Linked DNA regions of Homo sapiens. The protein of the gene in region 1 purifies or fractionates together with the protein of each later gene. This does not show direct contact. Each region holds a gene or a part of one and is shown in the gene's direction. Other genes may lie near its edges.

Region 1 (3,751 bases):
AGTTGCTCCTTGTGAATATGACCTTGGGCAATACAGGCTAACTTCGGGGCATCTGCTTTGGTCACAGTAACCAGGTAACATTCCAAATCTGGCTAAATCATCTGTGCAATTGTATAAGAAGTTGTTAATCAAGTCTCGATGGGCCAAGTCCAATGTCTCTGTTTTAATCAGTAATTTCATGTTTTATCTTGTAAAGTACCTCAATTTATCACCTTTGGGAAGCCCTCCAATGGGCTACAATATTGCAGAAATAATAAAACAACAACAACAACAACAACAGTAAGCTACCATTTATTTAGCCAGGCACTACGCTAAAATTTAACAGCTTAGGAAACTGAGGCTCAGAGAAGTATTTTTTTTTTTTTTTTTGAGACAGAGTCTCGCTCTGTCGCCCAGGCTGGAGTGCAGTGGCACGATCTCGGCTCACTGCAAGCTCCGCCTCCCGGGTTCAAGCAATTCTCCCGCCTCAGCCTCCCGAGTAGCTGGGATTACAGGTGTCCGCCACCACGCCCATCTAATTTTTGTATTTTTAGTAAAGACGGGGTTTCACCATGTTGGTCAGGCTGGTTTCGAACTCCTGACCTCGTGATCCACCCGCCTCGGCCTCCCAAAGTGCTGGGAATACAGGCGCGAGCCACCGCGCCCGGCCGCTCAGAGAAGTATTTCTAAGATTAACACCATCTCCTAACTATTAAATATCTTCATCAGAATGATCATAACCCTTGAAATAGCAACAGCCAGCTTGATGGAGCATTCGGCGCCTGTCAAATATCTTACTAGTATCTCCAAGAGTTCGTTTTCTAATTTGAATTTTCAATTTTGTGTCACTCCCCTTTAACTTCTTCGAAGCTACCAAACAGGTTACTGAATCATCTGCGTTTTGTACTTACCTTTTTCCCCCACTTTCGAATATTAAAAATGTTCCCGTCAGACCGCCTTTTGGTCACCGCATAGGGGCAGTCCCCACCGTGTCCGGCCAGCCTTCCACACGTACAGCTGTCGGATACTCTGCGGTCCAGCGTTTACACACTGCCCATCCCAGTTAAACACCACTAAACAAGTACCAGTCGATGCCAGCGCCAAACACCGCGTCTCCGCCTCGCCCTGCGGGCCGGAGGATATTCAGGAGAGTGGGAAAACGGCCGGTCCCAAGGTTAGGCTTAGGCGGCAACAGAAAGCAAACTGAACGCACACCTCTTTAGAACACTGACAACGCTGGCCCGGTGTTTTTAATGCACGAACCCGGCCACCTCGAGTGAATCCCGCAGATGCCTAGAGAAGAGCCCGGTCCAGTCCCGGCCCCGCGGGCCCGGAGCAGGGAGCCGCACGAAGCCCGCAGCCGCGAAAACAACTTCGCTGAGCCCGGCCTGGAGCGGGGGCCGGGCGGCGACTCCGCCCTCAGCGGGGAGCGGGGAGCGGGGAGCGATGCCCGGGGCGGCCGCGACGTCAGCGTCCCCGCCCCTGCCGCCCCTACTCCCGGCCAGGCCTCGGGGACCCCCGCCCCACAAAGGGGCGCGAACCCCAAGTAGGAGACGAGGAAGGGTAGGTGCCAGCCGCCGCCGCCCTTCGCAACCCGGGCCGTCAGCCCCGCCCCCACCGCCGCAGCGACTCCCGCCCCCGCGCCCGCCGAGACCAAGGCGCTACCGCTCACACTGCCCCTCCCCCCGCGGCCGAGCCGGCGCGGGCCCCCGCACCTCCCCCGCTCGCGCGGCCTCGAGTCCAGAAGACCCGCCTCCACACACCGGGGCCGCCGCCGCGGAGCCTCATGGGGGTTGGAGTCCCCAAGGTTTCCTTTGTGCGCAGTATTGGCGGGGCCTTGGACTACCACTCCCACAAGGCACCGCGCCCGCCTCCCGCGCCACGCCCCCTCGCCGCTGGCTTCCAGTCGCCACCCAGACTACATTTCCCGACAGGCCTCCCGGCTCTCCCGCCCTCCCTCCCGAGACACGAGCCGAACTGGGCGTCAGGTCGGGGAGCCGGTCGGGTTCCCGCTCACCGCCGCCGCCGCCGCCCCCTGCAGCCACTCTCCCGCCTCTACCGCCGCGGGAGCTGCATCGTCCACTCCGGTCGGCGGTGGAACCGCCAGTCCGGGGTCACAGAGCTTGAGAAGCGACGCGCTGAGCCCCCCATCACCTCCAGCCCGGGCGACCCCTCCCGGGTCCGCCCTCGCCCTGCGCAGCCGCCCGAGCCCCCAGCCCCGGGCGGCCCCGCTCCAGCATCCCAGCTCCTGCACTCTCGCAGCCGCCGCCGCCCCCCGCCCGGAACATGGACTCTGACTCTTGCGCCGCCGCCTTCCACCCGGAGGTGAGTGAAGCTGTGCGTCCGAATCGCCCCCGACCACCCCCTCCGCGATCCTGCCGTCCTCAGGCAGCCAGACCCCCGGTCGCCCGGAGCGCCGCCCTCCCCTTCCCCCGCTTTCCCCTCGTCGGCCCCCCCGGGAGCCCAACCCCCGCCCCCTGCTCGGGCCCGCGCTCGGTCCTCTCCGCCGGGCCTCGCCTCCGCGTCCCCTCCGCGGACCTCCGCGTCCTCCCCGCGCCCTTTCCCCAGGGCCGTTGCGCCTATTTCTCTCCCCCGGGCCGCCCCTCTCCGGCCTCGCGTCGACCTGGGACCTGTCGGCGCCCCCAGCCCCTCCCCGCCGGCCTGCTTACTCTTTCCCCGCCCCCGGGGACGCGGTCCGAGCCGCCGCCCGCCCCTGGCTCCGGTTGCTCTCGAGGAGTTTTAGGCCCCCCTCGGACCGGGGTCGGCTCCCGAGGCCCCCGGCTGCTCCCCCGATCCCCCGGGCCCGGTGGCCCGCGCCCCGCCCCCTGACTCCGCGCGGGGCCCAGTCGGCCCCCGCCCCCTACGGCTCTCGGGGGCCGCGTCCTCCGGGGGCCCCACCCGCTCTGGGGACCCGAGTCCTGCCCCCACCCACCGCCCCCCGGCGCGCTGGCCTCTCTCTTCGGGCCCCCGCCCCCCGCCCGCGGGCTTTGCTGGCTCCGCCCCGGCTCACTCCCCCTCCTTCCGGGGATCGGCCCTCGGGGCTCCCGGCCTCCCCCCCGCGCGGTCCCCTCCCCCCAGCCGAGGCTCGTTGGGGTCGGGGGTGCGGGTCCGGCGACCGCGGGCGGGTGGGGGAGGGGAGGCGGCGCCGGAGCCCGCCGGTCTCGCTGCCGCCCCCGGGGGTTCGCAGGGCCTCCCCAGGCCTGGGACCCCGGAATCCTGCCTGGCGCACCCCCCTCACACATACTCGCGGGATGGGCCCCGCACCTTCGGGGGCCGAGTGTCGCGGGGGGCGGCTGCCGCGGGAGGGCGGGTGGGGGCCGCTCCGCCATCTGCTTTCCGAGGAGGCGGCCGGGGGGGCGGGCGGCGTGGGCCGTGTGGGGGCGGCGTGGAACCCCCAGTCCCCGCGCCGGTGCCTCCCGCGCGCCCCCGGCCCGAGGCCGTCGCCGCCCTCCACTTGGCATTCGGGTTTTTGACCCACTTCTGCTGGTTCCCCGCCGAAAGAAAAGTTCTTCGCGGGAGTTGGAGGCCCGGGTGGCGGCCCGCGGTTCCCGTGGCTGGGCAGGCTCGCCAGTGCGGGGAGCGCGGTCAACGCGGGCCTTCGCCTCCGCTCCGTGGGCGGCCCTGGGGTCCAAGGGGGTGGGAGAGGAGAAGGTTTGCTTGAACCAGGTTGAGAAAATAATTTTCTAAGGGCACCGACTTTCTCGAAAGAAAACCCGCGGGCCGCACGCCTGCTCCTCGCGGCGGGAGGGGCGGCCCGAGACCCCTGCCCCCC
Region 2 (3,751 bases), on another chromosome or scaffold:
ACCTGAAATCTTCTAGAAAATTGAAGAGGAGGGAAGAGTTTTAACTAATTCTATGAGACTAGCCTTATCTTGATACTAAAACTAGAGAAAGACCAATATTCTTCATGAATATACATGGAAAAATTCTAAACAGAATTTTAGGAAATTGAATTAAAAAAACGATAATATGTCATAAATAACTAGGGCCTAGTTCAGGACTGCAAGGTCGATTTAACATTTGAAATTCAATGGATGTAATGACCATGCTGACAAACTAAAAACAAAACTATATGATTGTCTCAACAGACACAGAAAAAGCATTTAGCAAAATTCAACCTCTATTCTTGAAAACTCTCAGCAAACTAGGAATAGAAGAGAACCTTTAGTCTAGTAAATTGTATGTACAAAAAACCTAGAATGAATATTATATCTAATGGTGAAAAATTGAATGCTTTCTGTAAGATAAAGAACAAGTTATTGATGTCTGTTCTTTTTTTTTTTTTTTTTTTTTTTTTTTTTTTTTTTTTTTTGAGACGGAGTTTCGCTCTTGTTGCCCAGGCTGGAGTGCAATGGCTCAATCTTGGCTCACTGCAACCTCCAGCTTCTGGGTTCAAGTGATTCTCCTGCCTCAGCATCCCGAGTAGCGGGGATTACAGGCATGGGCCATCATGCCCAGCTGATTTTGTATTTTTAGTAGAGACGGGGTTTCTCCATGTTGGTCAGGCTGGTCTTGAACTCCCGACCTCAGGTGATCCGCCCACCTTAGCCTCTCAAAGTGCTGGGATTACAGGCGTGAACCACTGTGCCTGGCCCATTCTTACCACTGCTAATTCAACATTGTACAGGTAGTTTTAGCCATTGCAATAAGTCAGGAAAAATCAAAGTCATTGTGATTGAAAAGACAGAAGTAAAACTATCTTTGTGTACAGGCATCGTGAATATCTATACAGAAAACCCAAATCTCCAAAACCCACTAGAACAAATAAGTGTTTGGCAAGTTCACAGAATACAAGATCAATATACAAAATAAATTGTATTTCTATCTATTATAAATGAATATCAGAAATTGAAGTTAAAAAGCAATATTTACTATAATACGAAGTAGGGAAAATCTGGAAAGGATATGCAAGACATATATACTTAAAACTACAAAAACATTGTTGAGAGAAATTAAAGAAGACCTAATGAAACAGAAGGATGTACTGGTTCATGATTTGAAGGATGCAATATTAAGATATCAGTTATGCACAAATTGATATGTAGATCTAAAATAATCCTGACCAAAATCACAGGAGTCTTTTTTGTAGAGATTGACAAAGTAATATTAAATTTCATATGGAAATGCAAAGAACTAGAATAGCCAAAACAACTTTGAAAAAAAAGATAGAGTACTAATACTACCTAATGTCAAAAGTTCTAACACTTTTATTCAGCTACAATAATCAAGACAGTATAGTTTTGGTGTCAAGTTCCACGAACACATCAATAGAATAAAGAGTCCAAGAGTAGACCCACATGTATGTGATGGAGAAGGGACAGTCTTCTCAACAAGTAATGTTGAAATAATGGGATATTCATAAGCACAAAAATAAACAATTCATAACTCATTCATATATAAAATTAACTCAAGATGAATCATAGACACAAACATAAAACCTCACACTATAACACTTACAGAAAAAAACTAGGAGAAAACTTTTGTGGTCTTGGGCTAGGCAAAGATCTTAAAATATGGCACCAAAAGCGTGATCCATAGAATTACAAATGGATAAATTGCACTTCATCAAAATTAAAAACTCTGCTTTTGAAAAGAAACTGTTTAGGAAAGAGAAAACGCAAGCCACAGCCTAGAAGAAAATATTTGCAAATCATATATTCTATAAACACCAGTGCCCAGAATATAAAAAGAAATCTCAAAACTCAGAAAACAAATAACCTAATTTTTTAAACAGATTATTAACAGCTAGAAATATGGAAGCAAATAAGCACAGAAAAAGATGTTCAACATTGTAGTCATTAGGGGAACACAATTAAAAGTATGATGGAATACCAGCACATGCATATTACAATAGCTAAAATTAAACATTGACCATATCAGGCATCAGTGAGAGTATAGAGGACCTGGAGTTCTCATACACTGATGGTGGGAATGCTAAATTGTATGACTACTTTGACAAATAGTTTGGCAGTTTCTTTAAAAATTGCACATATATGCAATTTAGTCATTTCATCCTTAGATGTCTTTCCAAGATAAATAAAAGTATATGTCCATTTGTTAAAAAGTATGCATGAATATGTGTAGCAGCTTCATTTTAACATTCAAAAACTAGAAACAAGTCAAATATCCATCAATAAGTGAATAAACCATAATATATCCATGCAATATAATGCTACTCAGTACAAGAAATATTAATGTATGCCCCAACATGATAAATCTTAAAATATGCTGAGTGAAATAAGCCAGATAAAAAAGAATATATTAGCTAAGATTTCATCTTTGTAAAAGTTTAGAAAATGCAGACTAATCTGCAAGAACAGAAATTATATTAGTGGTTTCCTTGGAAAGGTTTGTTGCGATGGGGACCATGGAGCATAGGAGCTTGAGGAAGCTAGCTTTTGTAGGTGTTAGATATTTTTGTTATTGTGCTTGTGGCAGTGGTGTCAGTGGTGCGTACATATGCCCAAACTGATCAAACTATACACTTTATTTCTATTTTTATTTTTTTAAGATGGAGTTTCACTCTTTTGTCTAGGCTGGAGTGAAGTGGCACGATCTCGGCTCACTGCAGCCTCTGCCTTCAGGTTCAAGCAATTCTCCTGCCTTAGCTTCCTGAGTAGCTGGGTTTATAGGTGCCCACCACCATGCCTGGCTGATTTTTGTATTTTTAATAGAGACAGGGTTTTGCCATGTTGGCCAGGCTTGTCTTGAACTCCTGACCTTGGGTGATCCACCCGCCTGGGCCTCCCCAAGTGCTGGGATTACAGGTGTGAGCCACCGGCCCCGGCTCCGGCCCCATACACTTTAAATGTGTGCCACTTTTTGTATTTTAATCATATCTCAATATAGTTTGTTTGTTTCAAGATCCCTAGTTGATTCAAACATACACACAAATTTGAGAATCACTACTCTAATCCTTCAAGTCCCTGATTTCACCCTGCAGAGGCAACCTCTTCTAGGCAGTTTCTTGTTCTGGAAACTGGAACATTCTAGAAATCCTGTGCACATGCAGGCATATATGAACATACATATCCTGTGTTCTAACTTCACAAATGGTAGCATACTTTACATAACATTCTGTATTTTACTTTTTTCACTTACTATATCTTGAAAATTATTCCATATCTATACATATGGAATGACCTCATTCTTTTTGACACCTATGTGTTAATGCAGTGGATCTGGATCCTAATTATTTTGACTATAAGAGGTGGTACTTTATTCTTACTCTAAAATAATTTGAGAATAGAGATGTAACTTAAATAGTTGCAGAGTTAATTTTCCTTTTAGGCATATCCTTAAGTCCTCATAGTCATAGTCATACTATATATTATAAAATGCCTTCATCTATGTGGGTATATAAGCTTTCTACAACACCAAATTTACTATGAATTAGGTAGTAATTTTTCACAGGTAAAGTTTGCATATTTATGTGAAATGTTGACAAGTGTTAACATTTTAAAAAGTTATTATGACATTTTATTTGCTTTGCTTATTCCCTCAATATGAAATGTGGTGTTTGGTTGTCCTTCCTCATTTAACACATATTTTATA

Evidence for each region. Proteins that work in one complex are often made in the same cells at the same time.
Region 2: the proteins of PHF13 (region 1) and TBX20 purify together in Homo sapiens (affinity purification with mass spectrometry; 3 studies listed by BioGRID and IntAct, with this or other methods). This does not show direct contact.

The regions. Positions count from the first base shown.
Region 1 is NC_000001.11:6,611,802-6,615,552, forward strand, and holds the start of PHF13 (PHD finger protein 13), read left to right. Parts: upstream 1-1,929; 5' UTR 1,930-2,265; coding exon 2,266-2,304; intron 2,305-3,528; exon of another isoform or gene 3,529-3,751. UniProt on the Homo sapiens protein: Modulates chromatin structure and DNA damage response by regulating key determinants of chromatin compaction and DNA damage response.
Region 2 is NC_000007.14:35,205,501-35,209,251, reverse strand, and holds part of TBX20 (T-box transcription factor TBX20), read left to right. Parts: intron 1-3,751. UniProt on the Homo sapiens protein: Acts as a transcriptional activator and repressor required for cardiac development and may have key roles in the maintenance of functional and structural phenotypes in adult heart.